3 linked regions of the Homo sapiens genome follow. The protein of the gene in region 2 purifies or fractionates together with the protein of the main gene of each other region. This does not show direct contact. Each region holds a gene or a part of one and is shown on either strand. Other genes may lie near its edges.

Region 1 (7,965 bases), on a different chromosome or scaffold from region 2:
GCGAACTGGAGGGAGCTTGTTGCCCATCTTAAGATGGTAGCTTCCACATACCTCTATTGTTGTCGTATTATTTTCCTACTGTTACTGTAACAAATTGTAATAAAAATCATAGCTTAAAACAACACACATTTGTTATCTGCCAGGGCTGGAGTTCAGAAGTCCAAAATGAGCCAGGTGGGCTGGGCATGGTGAATCATGCCTGTAATCCCAGCACTCAGGGAGGCTGAGGCAGGCAGATCACTTGAGCTCACGAGTTCAAGACCAGCCTGGGCAACATGGTGAAACCCCATCTCTACTAATAATACAAAAAAAAAAAAAACTAGCCAGGCGTGGTGGTGCACACCTGTAGTCCCAACTACTCAGGAGACTGTGGTGGAAGGATGGCTAGAGGCCGGGAGGTGGAGGTTGCAGCGAGCCAAGATTGCGTCACTGCACTCCAGCCTGGGTGATAGAGCCAGACCTTGTGTCAAACAAAAACAAAAACAAACACAAAACAAAACAAAACAAACAAAATGAGGCCAGGTATGGTGGCACATGCCTGTAATCCTAGCACTTTGAGAGGCCAAGGCAGGTGGATTACCTGAGGTCAGGAGTTCGAGACCAGCCTGTCCAACATGGTGAAATCCTATCTCTACTAAAACTACAAAAATTAGCCAGGCATGCTGTGCACCTGTAATCCCAGCTACTCGGGACTTTGAGGCAGCAGAATCGCTTGAACCTGGTAGGTGGAGGTTGCATTGCACTGTGAGCTGAGATCACACTACTGCACTCCAGCCTGGGTGACACAGAGAGACTGTCTCAAAAAAAAAAAAAAAAAAAAAAACACCCAAAATGGGCCAGGTGACTCATGCCTGTAATCTCAGCAGTTTGGGAGGCCAAGGCAGGAGAAGAGCTTATGGCTAGGAGCTCTAGACCAGCTTGGGCAACACAGCAAGACCCCATATCTATAAAATATATATATATAGTGTGTGTATATATATATTTTTTTTTTGAGACAGTTTCGCTCTTGTTGCCCAGGCTGGAGTGCAATGGCACAATCTTGGCTCACCACAACTTCTGCCTCCCTGGTTCAAGCGATTCTCCTGCCTCAGCACTGCAATCCAGCCTGGGCAAGAGAGCAAGATCCTGTCTTCCTGTCTCTTTTTTTTTTTTTTTTTTTTTTTTTGAGACAGTGTCTCTCACTATTGCCCAGGCTGGAGTGCAATGGTGCAATCTTGGCTCACTGCAACATCTGCCTCCCAGGTTCACACGATTCTCCTGCCTCAGCCTCCTGAGTAGCTGGGATTACAGGTGCACACCACCATACCTGGCTAATTTTTTGTATTTTTGGTAGAGACGGGGTTTCACTATGTTGGTCAGGCTGGTCTTGAACTTCTGACCTCGTGATCCACCTGCCTCGGCCTCCCAAAGTGCTGGAATTACATGCCCGGCCAAGATCCTGCCTCAAAAAAAAAAAAAAAAAAAAAGGCTGGGCGCAGTGGCTCACACCTGTAGTCCCAGCATTTTGGGAGGCTGAGGTGGGTGGATCACGAGGTCAGGAGATCGAGACCATCCTGGCTAACACTGTGAAACCCCATCTCTACTAAAAATACAAAATTAGCCAGGAGTGGTGGGACATGCCTGTAGTCCCAGCTACTCGGGAGGCTGAGGCAGGAGAATTGCTTGAACCCGGGAGGTGGAGCTTGCAGTGAGCCGAGATCGCGCCACTGTACTCCAGCCTGGGCAACAGTGAGACTCCATCTTAAAAAAAAAAAAAAAAAAAAGCCAAAATGGGTCTTACAGAACTGAAATGAAGGTGTTGGCCAGGTTGCCTTCCTTCTGGAAATTCTAGGGGAGAATCTATTCCTCGACTTTTCCATCTTCTAGAGGCTGCCCATATTCTTTTACTCATGGCCCCTATCCCTCTTCAAAGCCAACAATCACATCATTCTGACCTCTACTTACTTTTGACCTCTTCTTTATTTTATAATTTTTATTTTTTGGTAGAGACAGGGTCTCACTATGTTGCCCAAGCTGGTCTCAAACTGCCGACCTCAAGTGATCCTCCCACCTCAGCCTCCTAAAGTGTTGGGATTACTGGCATGAGCACTGCACCAGGTCTGACCTCTTCTTTGACTCTGACCCTCCTGCCTCCTTCTTTCACTTATAAGGACCCTTGAAATTACACTGGGCCTACCTGGGATAATCCAGGATCATCTCCCTATCTCAAGATCTTTACCTTAATAACATCTTCAAAGTATTTTGCCATGTAAGGTAACAGTCACAGGTCCTGGAGATGAGGATGTGGACATCTTTATGGGGTAGCATTCTTCTGCCTACCATCTCTGAAGTGAAACAATTCTTCTGACACACACTTAGCAAATGCTTACCAGGTGTGCTAAGCACTATGCTAGGAGCTAGAAACAAAGATGAATAAGACACAGTCCTTACCTCCAATAGTTTGCTATCTATAATATTAAGATGGACATGTACACAAATAACTATAGCATGATGTGCTATATGCACTAAAATAAATGTCACAGCTACTTACACAGTGCCTTGATGTGAATATGTACATCTCTAAATTCATCTGATATTCACAATCTGAAGTTGTTATCCCGGTTTTACAAATGAAGAATCTGCACCTGAAGGTCAAAGAGGTTTAGAGTTTTTCCTAAGATAGCTCAAGTCTCTTACTATGTTCATTCTGCTAGGATAGGAGAGCACAAGGAAAAAGAGGTTCAGGGAGGGTCTGCAACCTACTGCCATGTGTCCTATAGTCACCACGGCTCCTTTCTTTGTAGGGACCATGACCTTATTCCCCAAAGAAGCCTCATTATACGCCCCTGTCAGTTTTCTTTTTATGAATGAGTCTTGTTCTCCCAATCAGATGGCAAGTCTACTGGGAAGAAAGACCTTGTCATATTTCACTATATTCCTTTCCATGCCTTGCCTATTTTGTTGATAGAGAGTTGCCATCACTAGTTCTTTCATGGTATTATGTTGTGTTGTCAGGTGATGGGGGAGGGAGGGGTGAATCCTTTCCAAGTGATGTAGAGCCAGGAAGACAGGTTTCTTAAGATCTGCAAACCAGCAGCACCTGGGGCACTGCCAGATGACTTTCCCCAGTGAAGGGAGACAATTAGAAAATGCAAGGCAGGCTGGGGTGGTTGCTCAGGCCTGTAATCCCAGCACTTTGGGAGGTTGAGGCGGGTGGATCGCTTGAGCTCAGGAGTTCAAGACAAATCTGGACAATATGGCGAGACCTTGTCTCTACTAAAAATACAAAAAATAAGGCCGGGTGTGGGGGCTCACACCTGTAATCCCAGCACTTTGGGAGGCTGAAGCAGGTGGATCATCTAAGGTCAGGAGTTGGAGACCAGCCTGACCAACATGGTGAAACCCCGTCTCTACTAAAAATACAAAAATCATCCAGGCATCCATGCCTGTAATCCCAGCTACTCCAGAGGCTGAGGCAGGAGAATCGCTAGAACCCGCGAGGCAGGTGTTGAGGTGAGCCGAAATCGTGCCATTGCACTCCAGCCTGGGCAACAAGAGCGAAACTCCATCTCAAAAATAGATAAATAAATAAAATAAGCTGGGCATGGTGTTGGTGCACGCCTGTGGTCTCAGCTACTGAGGAGGCTGAGGTGGAAGGATGAGGTAGAAGGATGGCCTTGAGCCGGGAGATGGAGGTTGCAATGAGCTGAGATTGCACCACTGCACTCTAGCCTGGGTGACACAGCAAGACACTGACTCAAAAGAGAGAGAGAGAGAGAGAAAGAGAAAGCAGAAGTAGCTTGAAAAGATGGGGTGGAGAGAACGGAATGAAATGTAGAAAGAAGGGCTTCTGCGGAGACCAGGGGCTGAGTGCTGAGACCATTAAGGTGCGGGTTGCAGATCCTGCTCTTGGGTTAGAGACAGAAGAGACCAAGAGTCAGAATCATCCAAGATATGAGAATCTCGATTTTCTTCTTTTCTCTTCAGAGGCAACAGACATTTTGATAGCTTACAACAATGTTTCCACTATGACATCACTGTCTCCTTTTCACCCACGAAAATGTCAAGGACTCAGTGAGGTTAAGTCACTTGCTCAAGGTCACACAGGGTAGCCTGGAGGAGAATCCAGGTCCTGAGGTCCCCCGGTCAGCGCTCCCGCAGTTCTGGCAGCAGGGGAGTGGGCAGGTGCCCTCAGCGAGGGCATCATAGTGACTGCGCTGATGACAGCGCCACTGACCCGCGGGCGGCCGGCGAGCCGCGGCAGATTCCGGGGTCGGCCCCGGCAGACAGGCTGCGGGGCTCGACTCTGCGGGAGCGCCTAAGGCATTGGCAATCTGGGGCTCAGGCTGTGCAGTTCTGGGTCCTCGGCCGCCCACAGGCGTCGGCGAAAGGCTGCCGCCCCGGCCGGGGACCAGGAAGCGTCAGGCAGCTGGCAAGGGCTCCCCGGGGACGCGCCACAGCCTCACAGCCGGCCCGAGTCTCCTGGGAGGCAGGGCTGGAAGGGCAGGGGTGAAGGCCAGCTGTGGCCGCTTGGGAAGGACCGCCTCGCCTGCTCCCGACCTAAGTCAGAACACCTGGATGACCGGTGCCTCCAGGACGCAGGTGCAGGTGAGACTCGCCCTGCCACAGCACCCTGCATCTCCGCGGAGGCCCTCGGGAGCCCAGCGTGTCTGCTCAAAACGAGGAAAGAATGGTTAAAGCCCGAATCGCGACTCTTAATCCCAGCGGGACAGGTGAGGGACCCCCGCGCAGCTTGGGGAGGGTACCAGGCCAGGCTCCGCCCCTCGGGGGGGCCGCTTACCCTCCCGGGAGGCGTGGCCTGCGGGCCGCCCAGCCTCTAGTGGGCGAGCGGGGAACGCGGGCCCCGCCCCCCCCCCGCCTATAAGGGCGGTGCGGCACTGCAGCTAGCGCAGTTCTCACTGAGACCTGTCACCCCGACTCAACGTGAGACGCACCGCCCGGACTCACCATGGTGAGTGCGGCCCGGCCGGGGTCGCGCCTGTCCCCTAATTGCCCCTCTCCTTTGGGGGACACTTCTTCCAGGCATGCTCGGGGACCTCCACCGGGCGTTCCGGGTCTCCAGGAGGTGCGAGGGTTTTGCATCCTCCCTCCCCAACCCCCTCCTGGTGACTTTGGCCGAGCCGTATAGTTCACCTTCGGTGGCTGGGGTTGGGGCTTGGGGTGGAGTGCGACTCTTCAGTAACAGAGAGGAACCCTTCCTGGCACTCTGCTCCTGCCTTACGAGCATTTGTGTCCCGACTCTGTATGAGAGTCACGCGGGCCCGCGCCCCGTCCTTTCCGCGGGCAAAAGAAGACGGGTTTGGCTGCCCTCTTACATCCCCAGTCCCTGGTCCTCAGCACTGACCGAGCACGTGCTTGGCGCTAGAAGGTGGAAGGGGTCAGGTTACCTGGTGCCGCATCCCCCTTTCCTCTGTGTATGCATTCCAACTATCCACAGAACCACCCCCCCCCCGTGACTCAGCACCCCGCGTCTGAGCTGAGAGGGTTGGTGGGAACGGGGTTCGGCCTCCTGAAGCGAGCTGGCCCTCTCCAGCCGAAGCCCGGGTGCGCGGATGGGCAGAGACAGCTGGCGCTGAGCACTGCGCGGGCCGAGGCCAGGTTGGGGGGAGGGGAGAGAGGTGCATGTAGGGGGTGGTATTTATAGCCCAGGAGCGGGGGCCGAAACCCAATCCCCGCTTTGGGCTGGGAAATAACTGTAAAGACTCCAGAGGGAGAGCGGATGTAGGGCTGGGCTGCAGGATGGCGCCCATCCTGCCCGGGACAAGGCGGGTCACCTCTGGGGCCTCACCGCAGGTTCCACTTCCTTTCTGGGTATTTGGAAACCGTCACCCCGCCATTTCGGTGTGGGAAGAGCGCGCGGGCCCTGCCGGACTTTAGTGCTTTAGGGGTTAATTTCGGGCTGACAGGGACGGAGCCTAAGGCAGTGAGCGCCCCAGTACCCTCAAACCTTATTGCTGGCCCCTGCTGTCTGAGCTTACAAGCATTACCGCCGCTATTTCCGTGCGGGCTGACACGGGAGATGAAAGTGGTGAAGACACCCAGGGTGCGGGGGTGGAGGTGGGGAGAGGAGCCAGATGGGATTGATCCCCAGAGCCAGATGGGATTTAAAGGTGAGGGAGGAGGGCATCCTGATGGCGTGTGGTCAGTTGATGCCAGATTGGATGGCTGAGACACCTCTGCAGCTTACAGGAAAGAAAGAGGGAAAGGGTTCTATGAATTCTAGCTGTTCATACTCAAAGCAAATAATTAATCAAGTGGGGGGGGGGCCTCTAGCTGTAAACCCATACCTCTAGGAAACCTTTTGTCATGTGGAGCCACAGTGCTCACTTGACAGATTCCCCACTGAGAAGTGGGCTAAGAGGTTGGCCTGCATTGCTGGGTGCCTCCAGGTGGGGAGTCCTGTACCTGGGAGCCCGGGCAGGCTGCTACTCTCTTCTCACCTCTGCCCAGCCCCAACCCTCCACTCTTGCCAACTGAGTCATCCTAGCTGGTAGATGATAGGGTGGAAGAGAGACTCGCAAGGTGAGGACTTGTGGATGTGGGGCTCATGCTGTGTCCCCTCTCTCTATCCCTCAGCGTGAATGCATCTCAGTCCACGTGGGGCAGGCAGGTGTCCAGATGGGCAATGCCTGCTGGGAGCTCTATTGCTTGGAACATGGGATTCAGCCTGATGGGCAGATGCCCAGTGACAAGACCATTGGTGGAGGGGACGACTCCTTCACCACCTTCTTCTGTGAAACTGGTGCTGGAAAACACGTACCCCGGGCAGTTTTTGTGGATCTGGAGCCTACGGTCATTGGTGAGAGGAAGTGGGGACAAAATTGAAGGGGGTGGAGCATGACTCAAAGCTTCTCCCTGGAGAGAGAGGGTATTTAGACCAGGCATTCCTAGCCCTGAAAATTCCTAGCCGTACTTGAAGCTGCAGAAGGCAAGCTGATCTGAGACTGGCCTGGGCAGCTGGTCTGGGTTTCTCTCACACTCTGGTATCTCAGGCTGGCAGGAGGATGAGTCCTTCCATGCATCTGGCCACAGCTACCACCCTGGGGGAGGAAGGTCCCTGCTGAGCATAGCTTTGTGGTTTTTGCCCTTCCAGATGAGATCCGAAATGGCCCATACCGACAGCTCTTCCACCCAGAGCAGCTCATCACTGGGAAAGAGGATGCTGCCAACAACTATGCCCGTGGTCACTATACCATTGGCAAGGAGATCATTGACCCAGTGCTGGATCGGATCCGCAAGCTGGTGAGAGTGTGTCTTGGGAGGGAGGGAACTTTTGAGACTGTGCTAATGGTCAGGAATATTTTTTTTCAGATCCTTTCAGGAGGTCATCTCTAACTATACATGGTCTCGAGTGTGGTGCTGCTATGGCATCCTCAGTATTTGCCCTGACTGCTGATGTATCTTACGCTTTATGGAGCCAGGTGATAGAGTCCCTCAGGCCCCTCCCCTACCTAAACTGTTCTTTCTCGTTCTTGCCTTTCAGTCTGACCAGTGCACAGGACTTCAGGGCTTCCTGGTGTTCCACAGCTTTGGTGGGGGCACTGGCTCTGGCTTCACCTCACTCCTGATGGAGCGGCTCTCTGTTGACTATGGCAAGAAATCCAAGCTGGAATTCTCCATCTACCCAGCCCCCCAGGTGTCTACAGCCGTGGTCGAGCCCTACAACTCTATCCTGACCACCCACACCACCCTGGAGCACTCAGACTGTGCCTTCATGGTGGACAACGAAGCAATCTATGACATCTGCCGCCGCAACCTAGACATCGAGCGCCCAACCTACACCAACCTCAATCGCCTCATTAGCCAAATTGTCTCCTCCATCACAGCTTCTCTGCGCTTTGACGGGGCCCTCAATGTGGACCTGACAGAGTTCCAGACCAACCTGGTGCCCTACCCTCGCATCCACTTCCCCCTGGCCACCTATGCACCAGTCATCTCTGCAGAAAAGGCATACCACGAGCAGCT
Region 2 (7,387 bases):
TGGCTTACACCTGTAATCCCAGCACCTTGGGAGGCTGCGGCGGGCAGATCACTTCAGCCCAGGAGTTTGAGACCAGCTTGGCGAACAAGGCAAAACCCCATCCCTGCAAAAGTTAGCAAGGCATACTGGCACACGACTGTGATCCCAGCTACTAGGGGGGCTGAGGGATGAGAATCGCTTGAGCCCAGGAGGTGAAGGCTGCGCCAGTGAGCTGAGATTGCGCCACTGCACTCCAGCCTGGGCGACAGAGTGAGACCCTGTCTCACACACACACACACACACACACACACTATATATATATATATATCAAAAGACAAAGATGAAGACAAAGATGCTTTACAATAAGCTGTCTATAGAGAAAAAGTCATCTTGGTACAATACCATTCAGCCAATGCTTTGAATCTACTTCCAAAATGGGGAAGAACAAATCCTGTTGACATGAGCTATAAACATTTCTGTGGATTACTTCACCATTGTCTTCTCTGGGGTAGTGACTAGAAATGCAGAAGTACATTAATTCATACCTTATCATAGCCTTCCAGTTCTCGAAGTTTCTTTATTTCAAAAAGATTGCCTTCCACAGCAAGCAGACAGATCTGGGAATCACTGAGGATGCTCTGGGGAAGCATGCTGAGCTCAAGACAATTCTCTTCCAGGCGAAGAATTTTAAGGCGTGGACAGCAAGATATCTTCACTGAGATCTGAGATATCTATTGAAAAACCACAAAAGAATAACAGGAAAAAGCATAAGCACTATACTGGTTACTTTTAGTACATTAAAACAAAACAAAAATCTTTACTTGACTATTTGTTCTAGTTTTCCCCTCTTTTACCACCTCCATTTTCTCACTGCCTACTCACTCCAGAAGCCTCTGTTATCTAGCTTCTGTTACTACGCCCCCACTTAAAAAAAATGCTTTTATGAAGGTCACCCATGGCTTTTTGGGAACAAAATTTTCTGATGATAAAAGCACTGTATGTTCATTATAGAAAATTTGAGAATCACAGGTTTAAAGAAAAAAGTTTACCTGGAATCCACCACCCAGAAATAACCACCATAAACATTTTGGTACATTTACTGCCAATGTTTTATGTGTACATAGATACTGACCACTTTACTACCAAATTCAAGGATCCATTGTCCTCAGTCCCTACTGCATTTAACTGTACTATCTATCCCTTCCTTAAAACCCCTTATTTTTGTCCTTTTTTGGTTTTTCTTCCTATCTTTTGGATTCTTCCTTACTTCTCTTGTTTTTATGGGCATTTTTCAAGTAGCTGTCTGTAATACTTCATATGTCATCTTCTCTCTAAACTTCTTCTAGAAAGCTCATTCATTAAAGTCCATCACTTTTGTTATGACCTCAAGATCTGTATCTATACTCTTACCTCTATTCTGCTCCCACGTTTCCAACTTTCAGTAAGATATTTCCATTTACAAGATTCACCACAGACAACTCAGCATGTCCATTCTCAATAGCACTACTGTTCCTTTAGGCCCTCAAGCTCAATACCAAGCAATTGTCTTTGACTCACCCCTTTTGCCATTTAAATACTAAAAGTCACCAAATTATTTGATTCTGCCCAGTATCATCTCAGACCATCACTTATTAGAAATCATGGGAACTTTAATAAGTTCAATAACTAGCAATGCAAGTTCTCAGACCTCATCCCAGCCCTACTGGATCAGAAACACTGAGGGTAGGGGGCTAGTGATCTCTTTAAACAAGCTTTTCTGGTTAATTCTGATGCATACTAAACTTAGAGAACCACTGAATAAAGGTACTGGCAGAGGTGAATGTGGAGCAAATCCTCAACTAATACTTGCTGCTTAATTGATTCAGTTTTTTTTTTCCCCCAAGAAGCTCTATAACATACAAGAATATCCACTTAAGGTAAAAAAACATGAGGCCAATTCCTCAAAGACAGACTGAATTTCATCATGATGTAAAATCACTACAATCTAGAAAAGTAATAACCACATGCAGCTTCTGGCCACTTTAATGGACCATGCAGATCTAGAAATACAGACACTAGAAAACTAAAGGCCATCCAGTCTCACAGTGTTTAATATTTCATCACTTGTGCCTTCATGCCTAGACAAGAATCTTTGGATTGGTTTTCCAGACAAATATTAATTGAAAGCTTCCAAAGTAATGGAAACAAATTTCAAATATTATAATTAAAGCTGTACAACAGTGAAATGGGCTATCTCCAGAAAGCCTATCACTTAATATTCTTCAGCAAAAGGAGACACACTTTGTAACAAAGATGTCAAAACCCCACACAAAACGAAAAACAAAACTGAATTACCTCTGACTCCCGACTCTGAGAACCTCAGTTTAGGCCTCATTTCCACATTATATCCCTGACATAGCTCCTGGCTAGCTGGTTAGGGGCATATATTTGAGGAGGATCTGAAGAAGTCTTCAAGATTTGTGAGACAGTAGTTTAACTTTTGAAATGATCTCTCCCTGTTACCTACCCCACCCTCCCCAAAACACCTACACAACTAACACATCCAGTGTCTCAACTAATTCCATGGCACTTTGGGCCTTGAAATTAGTTCAGCCTATAGAAGAAACCTCTCATTTAGCCTCTGATACTTAGCTCTATGATGGCAGTTTAGGAAACAAGAGGTTAACAGGTATCAGGAGACCTTAAAGCCACACATATGCTGTAGGAAAAAAAACCTTAAAGCTCTAGACCTGATTCTGGTTGAGGTTGAGTTCGATGACTTGCAGCTCTCCCACTGAGTCAGGTATACTTCGAATCTGGTTCTTAGAGAGATCCATCACATCCAGGTGCCGTAGGCTACAAAGTTGGGGAGGTAATGCTCCCAGTTGGTTCCCAGAGAGGCTCAGGGTCTTGAGGGCAGAGAGTTGCCCAAAGGTAGACGGCAGCTCTCTAAGGTGATTGTTGTTTAGGCTTAGCGTCTCTAGTTTTTTCAGATTGCATATCTCATCAGGCAGAACAGCTGGCAAAGAAAAATTTTTTTAAAACCTGAATGTGATAGAGCTGAAAACAACTTTGATGAAGTTTATAAAGACTATATGGCAGCCTGCTTCGCCTCTTGTTAATATATGTAAAACTCCCACATGTGCCATTTTTAGATATTGCATTTTACCAACATAGTCTTTAGAAGGTGAGGGTGCCATCAAAATGCCGGAGAGCATTTGTGTGTATAATGGGCTCCTTTTGTAAAGGGGCCCAAGGCACAATCCGACAGCAATTTTGTGATATTTGGAAGATCCTCCCCTTCTCATCCATCCCCCATTCCAAGTTAGGTAGCTTTGTTTACATTACATCCCCAAAATGTTCTTCTCTTTCAAGTCCAAATTAACCCAGTAACAATCATTATAACACCCAATCATTATAAGGCTTATTTTAGATGTAATTACAAGAAGTAGAAAGAAGGCTTCAAGGATTCCGGCATTCGCAACTTGAGCCCTCCTGCACGGTTTCATAACAAAAACAAAAATCAGCTTGTAAGAGAAAACCACCCCTGGTAACAGCTGATCACTAGCAAAAGCCTCCCTGGCGAGAGCCATACTCAGTTTGTTGTTGTTCAGGGAGAGGCTCTTCAGCAGAGTGAACTTTCCTATCAGCAAAGGCGGTAGGCTTTCGATCTTGTTGTTGGACAAGTCGATGGTCCTGAGATTGCTCGTCAGCTTCTGCAAGTCTGCGGGGAACTGGAGAAAGGAGTTCACAGCGTGGGGAATCCCGCACCGACTAAGTTCGCCGCCCCCGCCGTCCCTCTCCCTTTAAGTTCCCTGGTCGTGTCCCTCCCAGTCTCACCTCGGTCAGCCCTCGGTCCTTAAGCTGAAAGACACCAGTTTTCTGCGCCGTTTCCACATGAGCGCGGAGCGCACTGTTTCCCATCCTAGCGCCGCGGCTCAGGTCCCTGCGGGAAGGAAGCGCTGCTGTCACCGCCCAGTCCACCCGGTCGGCCTCCCGGCTGGGGCTCCTGCCCCAGCTCTCAACTCCCGCCGATCCCTGGCTCCTGGGGCCCGACCCAAGAGCGACAAGGAAGAAACGGAAGAACACACAGCCCGACCACCAAGCCCTGCCGCCTTTGCAGCTCTGCGGAGGCCAGGCGCCTCTGGGAGCCTACGGAAGATCAGGGAGCCCCGGACTCGCCTCCCACCGCTCAGCTGCCGTAAGGCTCCGCAGGTGAAGACCCAGGACCCGCAGTAGCCGGGATGCGCTCCCCGGCTTAGTCCCGGGCGGGAACGCCCTGTGACGTCATCGAGCCGCGCCGTGCGTTCGCCCTGCGATCCCGCTCACTCTTGGCGCCTTCGCGGAAGGTGCGTCCGAGCCATGGCCGCTGCCAACCCGTGGGACCCGGCGTCCGCGCCTAACGGCGCTGGGCTAGTGCTAGGCCACTTCATAGCTTCGGGGATGGTCAATCAGGTACGTGGGGGTGGCGGTGGTGTCATCAAGGGGGTGCCCAAGGTGGCAACAATATGGCTGTGAGTTGGTGCTGCTGGCTGTGGGAGTGGTGAGGGTCCTGGTTGGGGTCTGTACTAGAGTAATAAGAGCCCCTTCCAGGCAACAGCCGCGAACGTTCTGCCGTGGATGCTTGGAAAGCGGGGATCTGAGTAGATGGTGTTTAGGGTAGACTGTGTTTTGAGTGTCTGTAGGGTAAATTTGTCCCAGTCCAGTTTGTGGGAGATTAGACTGTTACCAGCCTTTTTTTCATCCAGTGATACTGCCTCTAGACTGTAGTGTAAGGGCGGGGATGGGAAATACGGGTCGTTCTGTCCCCTTGCGGAACAAGCATTTCCAACAACCCTCGTTTGTGGGAAGTGTTGAATCGTATTTGGGGCGGGAGGTGCTGGGTAGAGAAGAGCGCCAGAAGCTCTTTTTTGACATTTTTATTTTATTTTATTATTTATTTATTTATTTATATGAGACAGAGTCTCGCTCTAACGCCCAGGCTGGAGTGCAGTGGCGTGGTCTCGGCTCACTGCAACCTCCGCCTTCCTGGTTCAAGCGATTCTCCTGCCTCAGCCTCTGGAGTAGCTGGGACTACAGGCGCCCACCACCACACCCAGCTAATTTTTTTTTGTATGTTTAGTAGAGACGGGGTTTCACCTTGTAAGCCAGGATGGTCCCGATCTCCTGACCTCGTGATCCACCCGCCTCGGCCTCCCAAAGTGCTGGGATTACAGGCGTGAGCCACCGCGCCCGGCCTTGGCATCTTTAAAGGCAAAAAAAAAAAAAAAAAAAAAAAAGTATTGGCTAAAAAGATAAGACCTTGGAACGTGAATGGAGGAAGAGATTAATTTTGAGAAGGAGAGAAAAGAGACATTAACCCAAGGAGTCACGGAGTGGCAGTTTTAGGTTGGGCAAGAGGAGCATGTCGGAGGAAGGAGCCAACAGAGGGAGAAATTGAACATGTGAGGAAATAATGGAATGCAGTGACAGGAGGGCATGGGGCAAGTGGGATCAAGGGCATTGAGAAAAATGGGGAAATAAATTTTGATATATAGAGGAAGTTGAGAAATTTCACTAAAAAGAAAACAGAAAAGTTAAACTGATCTGTAAAAATCAGCACATATTAGCCGGCATGGTGGCGTACACCTGTAGTCCCAACTACTCCGCGGACCACATGGGTCCTGGAGGCTCAGATGGGAAGATGGCTTGAGCTTAAGAGATGGAGGTTGCAGTGAGATGCGATCGGGCCACTGCACTTAGCCTGGGCGACAGAGTGAGACCCTGTCTCAGGGAAAAAAAAAAAAAAAAAAGCACTACAAACATGATGGAAGATTTACGGAAAATACATAACTTTTTATAGTCAGAAGAGCCATTAGAGACTCTAATACCTTACAGTATTTTTTAATTTAAGAAACTAAGGCTTAGACCAAGAAACTTGCCCATGGTCACTAGACTGTTAAAGGAGAATTAGATCTTAGTACTCTCCCTTTTGACACATTGTATCCCCTCTCAAGATGAACTGTTATAAGAGGCTGTGATACTGTATTAAAAGATTTTAAGCTTTTGTTGAACACCCATTGTCTGGGTGATGGGGAGATTCAGGTGGTCCTAGTTGACTAACTTTACCAGGAGTGACCACAGCACTCTACAGTGTAATCCTTCCTCCCTTCTCTCCTGTGTTTTCTTTTTTTTTTGAGACGGAGTCTCGCTCTGTTGCCCAGGCTGGAGTGCAGTGGCACAGTCTTGGCTCACTGCAAGCTCCACCTCCTGGGTTCATGCCATTCTCCTGCCTCAGCCTCATGAGTAGCTGGGACTACAGGTGCTCACCACCTCACCCGGCTAATTTTTGTATTTTTAGTAGAAATGGGGTTTCACCATGTTAGCCAGGATGGTCTCGATCTCCTGACCTCGTGATCTGCCTGCCTCTGCCTCCCAAAGTGCTGGGATTACAGGCGTGAGCCACTGCACCCGGCCCTCTCCTGTATTTTCTTTTTCTTTTCTTTTCTTTTTTTTTTTTTTCTGAGACATAGTCTCCCTCTGTTGCCCAGGCTGGAGTGCAGTGGTGTGATCTTGGCTCACTGTACCCTCTGCCACCTGGGTTCAATCAATTCTCGTGCTCCCGAGTAGCTGGGACTACAGGCACCTGCCATCACACCTGCTAATTTTCATATTTTCAGTAGAGACGGGGTTTCACCATTTTGGCCAGGGTAGTCTCAAACTCCTGATCTCAGGTGATCTGCCTGTCTCGGCCTCCCAAAGTACTGGGAGCTGAACCCAGCCTTTTTCTTCTTATCAGGTTACCTAGTACTCTCACTTGTATTGTCCAGTTCTCCTGTCACAAAATAGTTTGGCAAACTCATAATAGAAAACATTTTTGAGGGTTCACTCCTGTAATCCCAACACTTTGGGAGGCCGAGGCGGGTGGATCACCTGAGGTCAGGAGTTTGAGATCAGCTGGGCCAACATGGTGAAACCCAGTCTCTACTACAAATACAAAAATCAGCCGGGTATAGTGGTAGGTGCCTGTAATCCCAGCTACTCGGGAAGCCGAGACATGAGAATCGCTTGAGCCCTGGAGGTGGAGATTGCAGTGAGCAAAGATCGTGCCACTGCACTCCAGCCTGGGTGACACAGTAAGACCCTGTCTCAAAAAAAAACAACCCCCCAACTTTTGGTACTTGGTATCCCTCTAAAGAGCATTGGTAGGAAATACAAATGCCTAAACCAAAGGAGTAAGGCACTGGTGACAGAATTTCAGGCATTGATGGGTGAACTCTTTTTTGGGGGTGGTGGTTGTCTTGGGGGTGTCTACTGTCTCTCAAGTAACATTAATTAGACAGTTACTGGTTTTACCTACAGTTAACATGTCCCACTCCATAGCTCCTTAAGATCCCACTCCATAGCTCCTTAAGACTTCTGACAACCTTACTACACAGCTAGTCCCAAT
Region 3 (7,238 bases), on a different chromosome or scaffold from region 2:
CCTCGCTAGGGCAGCATCTCCCTCTCCCTTCTATGATAGGCTTTTCTTCACAGCACTCATCTCTACCAGAAATGATAGGGTCTGTTTGGTTCCTACTTTACTATCTGTCTTCTCTGTGTCACAGCATAAGCTCCAGGAGGGCAGGGACATGTTCTCTGTTTGTGGCTGTTTCCCCAGGGCTGGTGTTCTAGGTATACAGGTGGTATCATTCTAGGCACTGAAAATACAGGTGACTGAGATGACAAAACCTCCTGGCCTCATGGACATTCCATCCTAATGGTTCCAGAATTCTGGAACCCAAGAAGGGATCAGGGCAGAGCCCTGAGGTCTCTAAGAGAATGTCTGGCCACCCAGCCTGGTGAGGGTGGGTCCCTGAGGCCCACCTCTCCATGTCCTGCAGGCGCCTCAGTTGATTCTGCAGCCGCTGCATGGGATCTCGGAGCGTATGCTGCTGTCTTCGCATGGCCCCAGCTTGGGCCCGGAGGAGGAGAGCTCGACGCTGGGTGTCTTGAGTGTGCTGACGTGCCTGCTCCATGGCCGTGTCTGTGGGAGGAACAGGGGTGGCCATCAGCACCTTTCCCGCCCCACATTCTGGTGCCCATCTTCTGGCCCCATGGCTCACCCTGAGCCTCAGTGTCTCGCTCCATCAGCTCCAGGCTCTGGTCGAGTTCCTGGATTTCTGCCCGCAGGCGGGTCACAGCAGCTTCCAGCTCTAACTTCCGACGGACCTGGGAGGATCAGATTCAGGGTCAGATGGTCTGATCGGGGCTCAGCCTGGCCTGTCTTTTGGGGGTACCAGGCTCCTCAACTGGTGGCAGAGGGTTTTTGCTCAGCAGTTTCTGTGTCTGACACAGAAGCATTAGGGTATTGGCTCCCTCCCTCCTTCCTCCTAGGATTGTCTTACCCACACTTCCAGCCTGTTTCCTGTCTGTGCTGGTGACAACCACATCTTTGTCCCAGTACTGATCTCTTCCCGGAGCCCTGCACCTAGAAGTCCCAAGGCCTCCTGGAAGCCTCCCCTTAGGTGTCATATGAGCCCCTTGCACCCATTGGGTCCCACACTGGCCTCAGCATCTCTCCCATACCTGTCCCATCATCTCTTCTCACCAGCTTTGATGCCACATATCCAGGTCCCACCTCTCTGCGCCCAGCTAATTAATGCTCTTTATTTATTTTTTCTTTTTTTGAGATAGAGTCTCGCTCTATTGCCCAGGCTGGAGTGCAGTAGTGCGATCTCAGCTCACTGCAACCTCTGCCTCCCAGGTTCAAGCGATTCTCCTGCCTCAGCCTCCCAAGTAGCTAGGATTACAGGCGTGTGCCACCACGCCTGGCTAATTTTTTATTTTTATTAGAGACAGGGCTTCACCGTGTTGGCCAGGCTGGTCTCGAACTCCTGACCTCAGGTGATCCGCCTCCCAAACCACATCTTTGTCCCAGTACTGATCGCTTCCTGGAGCCCTCAGGTGATCTCATCACCTGAGATGAGGCCTCAGGTGAGCCTCCCAAAGTGCTGGGATTACAGGTGTGAGCCACTGCACCTGGCTGAGCTAATGCTGTTTCCACTGGACTTTAAGCCCTATGAGGATGGAGATCAAGGCTGTCTTGTGACCCATTGTCCCCAGCATCACCCAGCACCTGGTTGGGCTTAGAGCAGAAGATCTACAAGTCATTTTTCGGATGAAAGAGAATCTTGTAGCATATGCTTCTCACCTGTGGACTGTCCTGGTGGCCATACCTAGGAAAACGAGGCCAGAGTCAGCGGATGAGTGGGGCTTCTAGGGGGGAGGGCAATAGGTGTGATGCTGTGGTGGGGACAGGGCTAAATGGGAGTGGGGAAGACAGGAGGGGATAGCTTTAAGAAGCAGTTACCAGAGTAGGTTTCCCCGGATCTTCTTGACAGTCCTACAGTGCAGAGGCAGAAAGAGGAGTTACTATGGGCCTCACCTGTGCCCCCTCCCCTGCTCTAGCCCAGCTTACCTCTGACTGTGCACATGCTGCAAGATGTAGGCCCAGATGTCAGCCCCCTGGCCCAGACACAGCCTGTGGGGACAGTGTGTAAGCATATGCCTGGGGCAGCACACAGGGTGTGGGATCCTCATTCCTAGGGTGATGGTGGTAGGGAGTTTTTACTAGGGAGTTCTCACTTCTTGAGGAGGGAAGGCCCAAACTTTTTTTTGCCTTTTTTTTTTTTTTTTTTTTAAGAGACAGTCTCGCTCTGTCGCAGTGGTACGATCATAGCTCCTTGCAGCCTCAACCTCCTGGGCTCATGCGATCCTCCCACCTCAGCCTCCAGAGTAGCTAGGACTACAGGCAGGCACCACTACACCCGGCTAATTGGTAAAACATTTTTTTTGTAGGGACTGGATGTTTGCACTAAGTGTGGTGTTATTCTCATTCCCTGGGAAGGCGGGTGGTGGGGGAGCGCGGGAGAGGCGGGTGCTCCCTTTCTCCTGGGAGTGGGTTATCCCAGTCACATCCAGAGGTGGAGGTGGGGGATGTACTGCCAGGAAGTGCCATCTCATGACCAGACGTGGGGCATCACTCCTACAGCTTCAATCCCCGATGGGGTGGCCACGGCTAACTCCTGAGTGTCCTTCTTGGTTAGGTTAAGGGAGGGAGGGGAGGTGCTGCGGGGACAGCCTCACTCTGGAGATCCTATTTCCATAAGGAGCGAGGTCTTAGCTAACTCGTGGAGGATCCTCACCAGTGCTAGGGACCTCACTCTGGGGAGCCTCCCAGGGTAGGGAGCCCTCAGTAAGTCGGGTCACTCTCGATGGGGAATTGGGGGGAGTCGAGTCCTCAATGAGGGGTGGAGTTCTCACTCCCGGAGACTCAATCTCCAGGGTGGGGTGTCCTCACTCCAGGAGCGGTCCTCACCTGCGCAGCGTCGATTCCGGGGCCCGGGCCGCCACGGGCACCCCCATCTCTTCGACCGCCCAGCAACCCAGTTCCCGCGCTTCCTGCGCTAGCTCCATGACAGCGCCGCGGCGGCGACACCGCCTCCCTCAGCCTCTTCAAGTGTGGCGCCCGCCTCTGACGTCACGGGCGCGCCAACAGTGACGTCATCGGTTGCCGGGCAGACAGCGGGCTCGGGCGCTGCATAGTAATCTTAGCGCGGTCAGGCTGGGTCTTGCAGCGCTCACTCTTCCCAGGTAGGTCTCCTTGAGTGGAAATGAAAAGGGCGTGGAGAGACTGCAGCCCCGCCCGCCTTCCCTCGTTCTCCCGCTCACTACCAGCTAACCCGAAAGAGGCAAAACAGTCCTTGATGCTTCCATTTATTTTCTTTTTCTTCTTTTAACTAAACACTTTTATTTTAATAGAGATGGGATCTCACTTGTTGCCCAGGCTAGTCTCAGCTTCTGGGCTCTTGAACTCCTGGGCTCAAGCGATCCTCCCGCCTCGGCCTCCCAAAATGTTGGGATTACAGGCGTGAGCCACCACGCTCACCCCCTTTATTTTCTTGACAAAATGGGACTTGCGTCCTAGGAGGACTGGAACCAGGCAATGAGATCCTGGACTTACTGCTCTTTGATTTCAGAAACAGGTGTCTCATGTCTGAGTGGAGGGTAGGGGCAGAGAGCATGACCCTAACATTTCCCTGGCATGCGTTTTCCCATTCATTCGTGCTTACCATTCCATAAACTCAGGGAGCTGACCCTGTGCTGGGTGATGCTGGGGACACCATGGTGACCACAACAGCCCTGGTCCCTATTGTACGGAGCTCACAGTTGAGTGGGGAGACAGACGCACCACCAGGTAGGGGTGGTAAAAATAAGCAGCAGGGGTGGGTCAATTTGGGACACAGCAGGTGTGAGAGGTCTGCGCTAGACCAGCAGTCCCCAACCTTTTGAGCATCAGGGACTGGTTTCATGGAAGACAATTTTTCCACAGTCTGGGGGATGGAGGGTGGGAGCAGTGGATGGTTTCGGGATGAAACTGTTCCACTTCAGGTCGTGAGGCATTATATTCTCTGTCTCTCTCTCTCTTTTTTTTTTTCTTCCCTGTTTTTTTTTTTGAGGTGAAGTCTCCCTCTTTCACCCAGGCTGGAGTGCAGTGGCCCGATCTCGGCTCAGCGCAATCTTTGCCTCCGGGGTTCAAGCGATTCTACTGCCTCAGCCTCCTGAGTAGCTGGGATTACAGGCGCCCGCTACCATGCCCAGCTAATTTTTGTATTTTTAGTAGAGACGGGGTTTCACCATGTTGGCCAGGCTGGTCTTGAACTCCTGACCTTAAGTGATCAGCCCATCTCAGCCTCCCAAAGTGCTAGCATTACAGGTGTGAGCCACCATGCCCCGCCTAAGCATTAGATTCTCATAAGGAGTGCGCAATCTAGATCCTTCGTATGCACAGTTCACAATAGGGTTTGCGCTCCTGTAAGAATCTAATGCCGCTCCTGATCTGGCAGGAGGTGGAGCTCAGGCAGTGATGCTCACCCATACGCCACTCACCTCCTGCTGTGCAGCCTGGTTTCTAACAGGCCATGGACTTGTATTGGTTCACGGCTTGGGGTTTGGAGACCCCTGCCCCTGCCCTAGATGAAATACTTCTCTGATGCTGACTAACCAACCATGCTTAAAAGCAAGGCCCGAAAGGATCAAGCTATTATTTAGCTGCATTCCAGAACAAAATTCAAGAATATTTATAGAGATTAAAAAAAATCCAGCATCCAACACTGTAAAATTAACAATATCTGACATCAGTAAAAAATTATAAGGCAATGGCTGGGCGTGGTGGCTCATGCCTGTAATCCCAGCACTTCGGGCGGTTGAGGTGGGAGGAATGTTTGAGGCTAGGAATTTGAGACCCACCTGGGCACCACAGCAAAACCTTGTCTCTATTAAAAATTAAAAAAAATTAGCCAGGCGTGGTGGTGCACGCTTGTAGTCCCATCTACTTGGGGGGTTGAAACAGGAGGATCAGTTGAGCCTGGGAGGTTGAGGCTTCAGTGAGCTATGATGGCACCACTGCACTCCAGCCTGGGTGACCCTGTCTCAAAGCCAAAACAAAACCAAACCAAAATAAAATAATCATCTGTATTCATGTTTCATAATATCCTCAATGGGTTTGTGCCTTTTTGGTACAGCTGTCAAGCAGCTCAAGAAAGTCGTGGGCTTTATCCGCTTAATGTAAGTGGCCGCTCTTGACTCTGGTTCCCAGGAAGACCTTCAACCTGGCCCCAGCCAAAAAGGCTACAAGCTGGCCCCCAAGAACTCACACAGCTTTTCCCAGTTCAGATGGCCCCAGGATAGCATGCCCACCAGCTTCCAGGAATCACTGTGGTTACTGTGCCCAGGTGCCTGAACCTCACAGTGCTGTGCATGGGGAGAAGCCTCTGCTGGGTGCTGACCTACCAGACAAGGATGGGCCAATTTAGGTAAATGGGAATGAGGAAGGAATGCCCGGCCCCAGAAAACCTCCCTCGAAGTTCAGATGACCATAGGAAACTCCCTGATAATGCAACTGCTGTGACTGTCACCTGCGTCTCAGTAGCTCACTGCAGGCACCTGGTCTCACTTCCTCCAGTCTGGCACAGCTTGTTACATCACCCAAGACAATGAAGGAAAAAGTGACCCCTTCAGAGGAAGGCCCTGAGCACTTAGGGTGCTTTCTGCCCCAGGGACCCAGGGTGAATCCCACGAAAGCCAGTTGTCTGGTTAGTGGTAACAGCACAGTGCAGGTGGACAGTCCCAATGTCCCATTGTTATGCTGGTGCTCAGCAGATGGTGAAGAACCTCCAGGCATGCCCCACAGCGGTCCCTGCTGCCTGCTTCCTGGCTGGGGTAGGACACACCCCTGTGACTTCCTTTCCTGCTATGTCTCTGCCCATCCTGCCCCAAACACACATGTAGATATGACCGGGTCTCAGACTGCAAAGTCAAGAGAGAGGAGGAAGTTCTCAGTAACATGCAAGGCGTGCCCTACCGCCATGATTTGGAAAGTTTCACCAGTCTCTGCTTTGAGAAGACTTGATCTGTCCCTGTGATTTGGTCACAATTGCCTTTGGACTGAGACACCACCAAAGGACAATGGATGGCCTGCACCCCCAGGAGCAGTCACCCGGGGTGCCTGTCTGGGCAAGTCTCATTCTCATTGCTACCTGGGCTTTCTCGTTTGTTTGTTTGTTTGTTTGTGAGATGGGACCTCACTCTGTTGCCCAGGCTGGAGCCATGGCCCGATCACGGCTCATCACATGCTGGAACTCCTGGGCTTAAGTGATCCTCCTGCCTCAGCCTCCTTAGTAGCTGGGACTTGAGCCAATTCTCCCAGCTAGATTTTTTTCAGTTTTAATTTTTTGTAGAGACGGGGTCTCGCTATGTGGCCCAGGCTGGTCTCAAACTCCTGGCCTCAAGCAGTCCTCTCACCTTGGCCTCCCAAAGCACTGAGATTACAGGCATGAGCCATTATACCTGGCCACTTTCTGCTTTTATTTATTTATTTTTTTTGTGACAGAGTCTCCCTCTGTCGCCCAGGCTGGAGTGCAGTGGCACAATCTCGGCTCACTGCAACCTCTACCTCTTGGGTTCAAGCAATTCTCTGCCTCAGCCTCCCAAGTAGCTAGGATTACAGGCATGCACCATCATACCCGGCTAATTTTTGTATTTTTAGTAGAGACGGGGTTTCACCATGTTGGCCAGGCTGGTCTCAAACTCCTGACCTCAAGTGATCCACTTGCCTCAGCCTCCCAAAGTGCTGGGATTACAGGTGTGAGCCACTGCACCTGGCCTCACTTTCTGCTTCTTATGCTCAATGTCTCCTTGTTTTGGAGACATGTCACCATTTGTCCTTTTCTTGGTTCCTTTCTCATGGTATCTGTTCTGTTGGCCTTGGTGGGAGGTACTGGTGCCTTCCTGCTTTCTTAGATCCTGAAGGAGCAGAGCCCCTGTGGCCTCTTGGTCTTCTTCTGTCAGCATCTCTCTCCCTTTGCTTTATCTGAAATCTCTTTTCTGTTTTTCTGGATAATTTCAGGATGCTTTTTGGAACCCATCCACCATCTGAGAGATAATAAGAAGCTTCTCTAGGACTTGTGATTTTGGTTTCAGCAGCTCCTTCCACGTTTGAGAAGAGTCTTCTCATTTCTTACTCATAGAACATCCCATCAGACATTTCTCCTGATCCACATAGTAATTCAGGGATCCAGGCTTCTTCCATAAGGTGATTCAACCATCTTCTATGGGCTCAGAGTCTTTTGAATCCAGGCAGAAGAGAGAATAAGGAACTCGCACCTGCTTCTTGAAAGT

The links.
Region 1: the proteins of HAUS2 (region 2) and TUBA4A purify together in Homo sapiens (affinity purification with mass spectrometry; 2 studies listed by BioGRID and IntAct, with this or other methods). This does not show direct contact.
Region 3: the proteins of HAUS2 (region 2) and HAUS5 purify together in Homo sapiens (affinity purification with mass spectrometry; 5 studies listed by BioGRID and IntAct, with this or other methods). This does not show direct contact.

Annotation. Positions count from the first base shown.
Region 1 is NC_000002.12:219,250,842-219,258,806, reverse strand, and holds the start of TUBA4A (tubulin alpha-4A chain), read left to right. Parts: upstream 1-4,888; 5' UTR 4,889-4,948; coding exon 4,949-4,951; intron 4,952-5,387; coding exon of another isoform or gene 5,388-5,399; exon of another isoform or gene 5,400-5,564; intron 5,565-6,576; coding exon 6,577-6,799; intron 6,800-7,093; coding exon 7,094-7,242; intron 7,243-7,483; coding exon 7,484-7,965. Other genes in the region: TUBA4B (tubulin-like protein alpha-4B), read right to left, coding at 5,388-5,399. UniProt on the Homo sapiens protein: Tubulin is the major constituent of microtubules, a cylinder consisting of laterally associated linear protofilaments composed of alpha- and beta-tubulin heterodimers.
Region 2 is NC_000015.10:42,544,553-42,551,939, forward strand, and holds the start of HAUS2 (HAUS augmin-like complex subunit 2), read left to right. Parts: upstream 1-4,285; 5' UTR 4,286-4,320; coding exon 4,321-4,413; intron 4,414-7,387. Other genes in the region: LRRC57 (leucine-rich repeat-containing protein 57), read right to left, coding at 525-710, 2,709-2,977, 3,554-3,692, 3,799-3,882.
Region 3 is NC_000019.10:35,608,532-35,615,769, reverse strand, and holds the start of HAUS5 (HAUS augmin-like complex subunit 5), read right to left. Parts: upstream 3,036-7,238; 5' UTR 2,976-3,035; coding exon 2,878-2,975; intron 2,041-2,877; coding exon 1,978-2,040; intron 1,903-1,977; coding exon 1,870-1,902; intron 1,736-1,869; coding exon 1,711-1,735; exon of another isoform or gene 1,636-1,710; intron 729-1,635; coding exon 623-728; intron 544-622; coding exon 384-543; intron 1-383.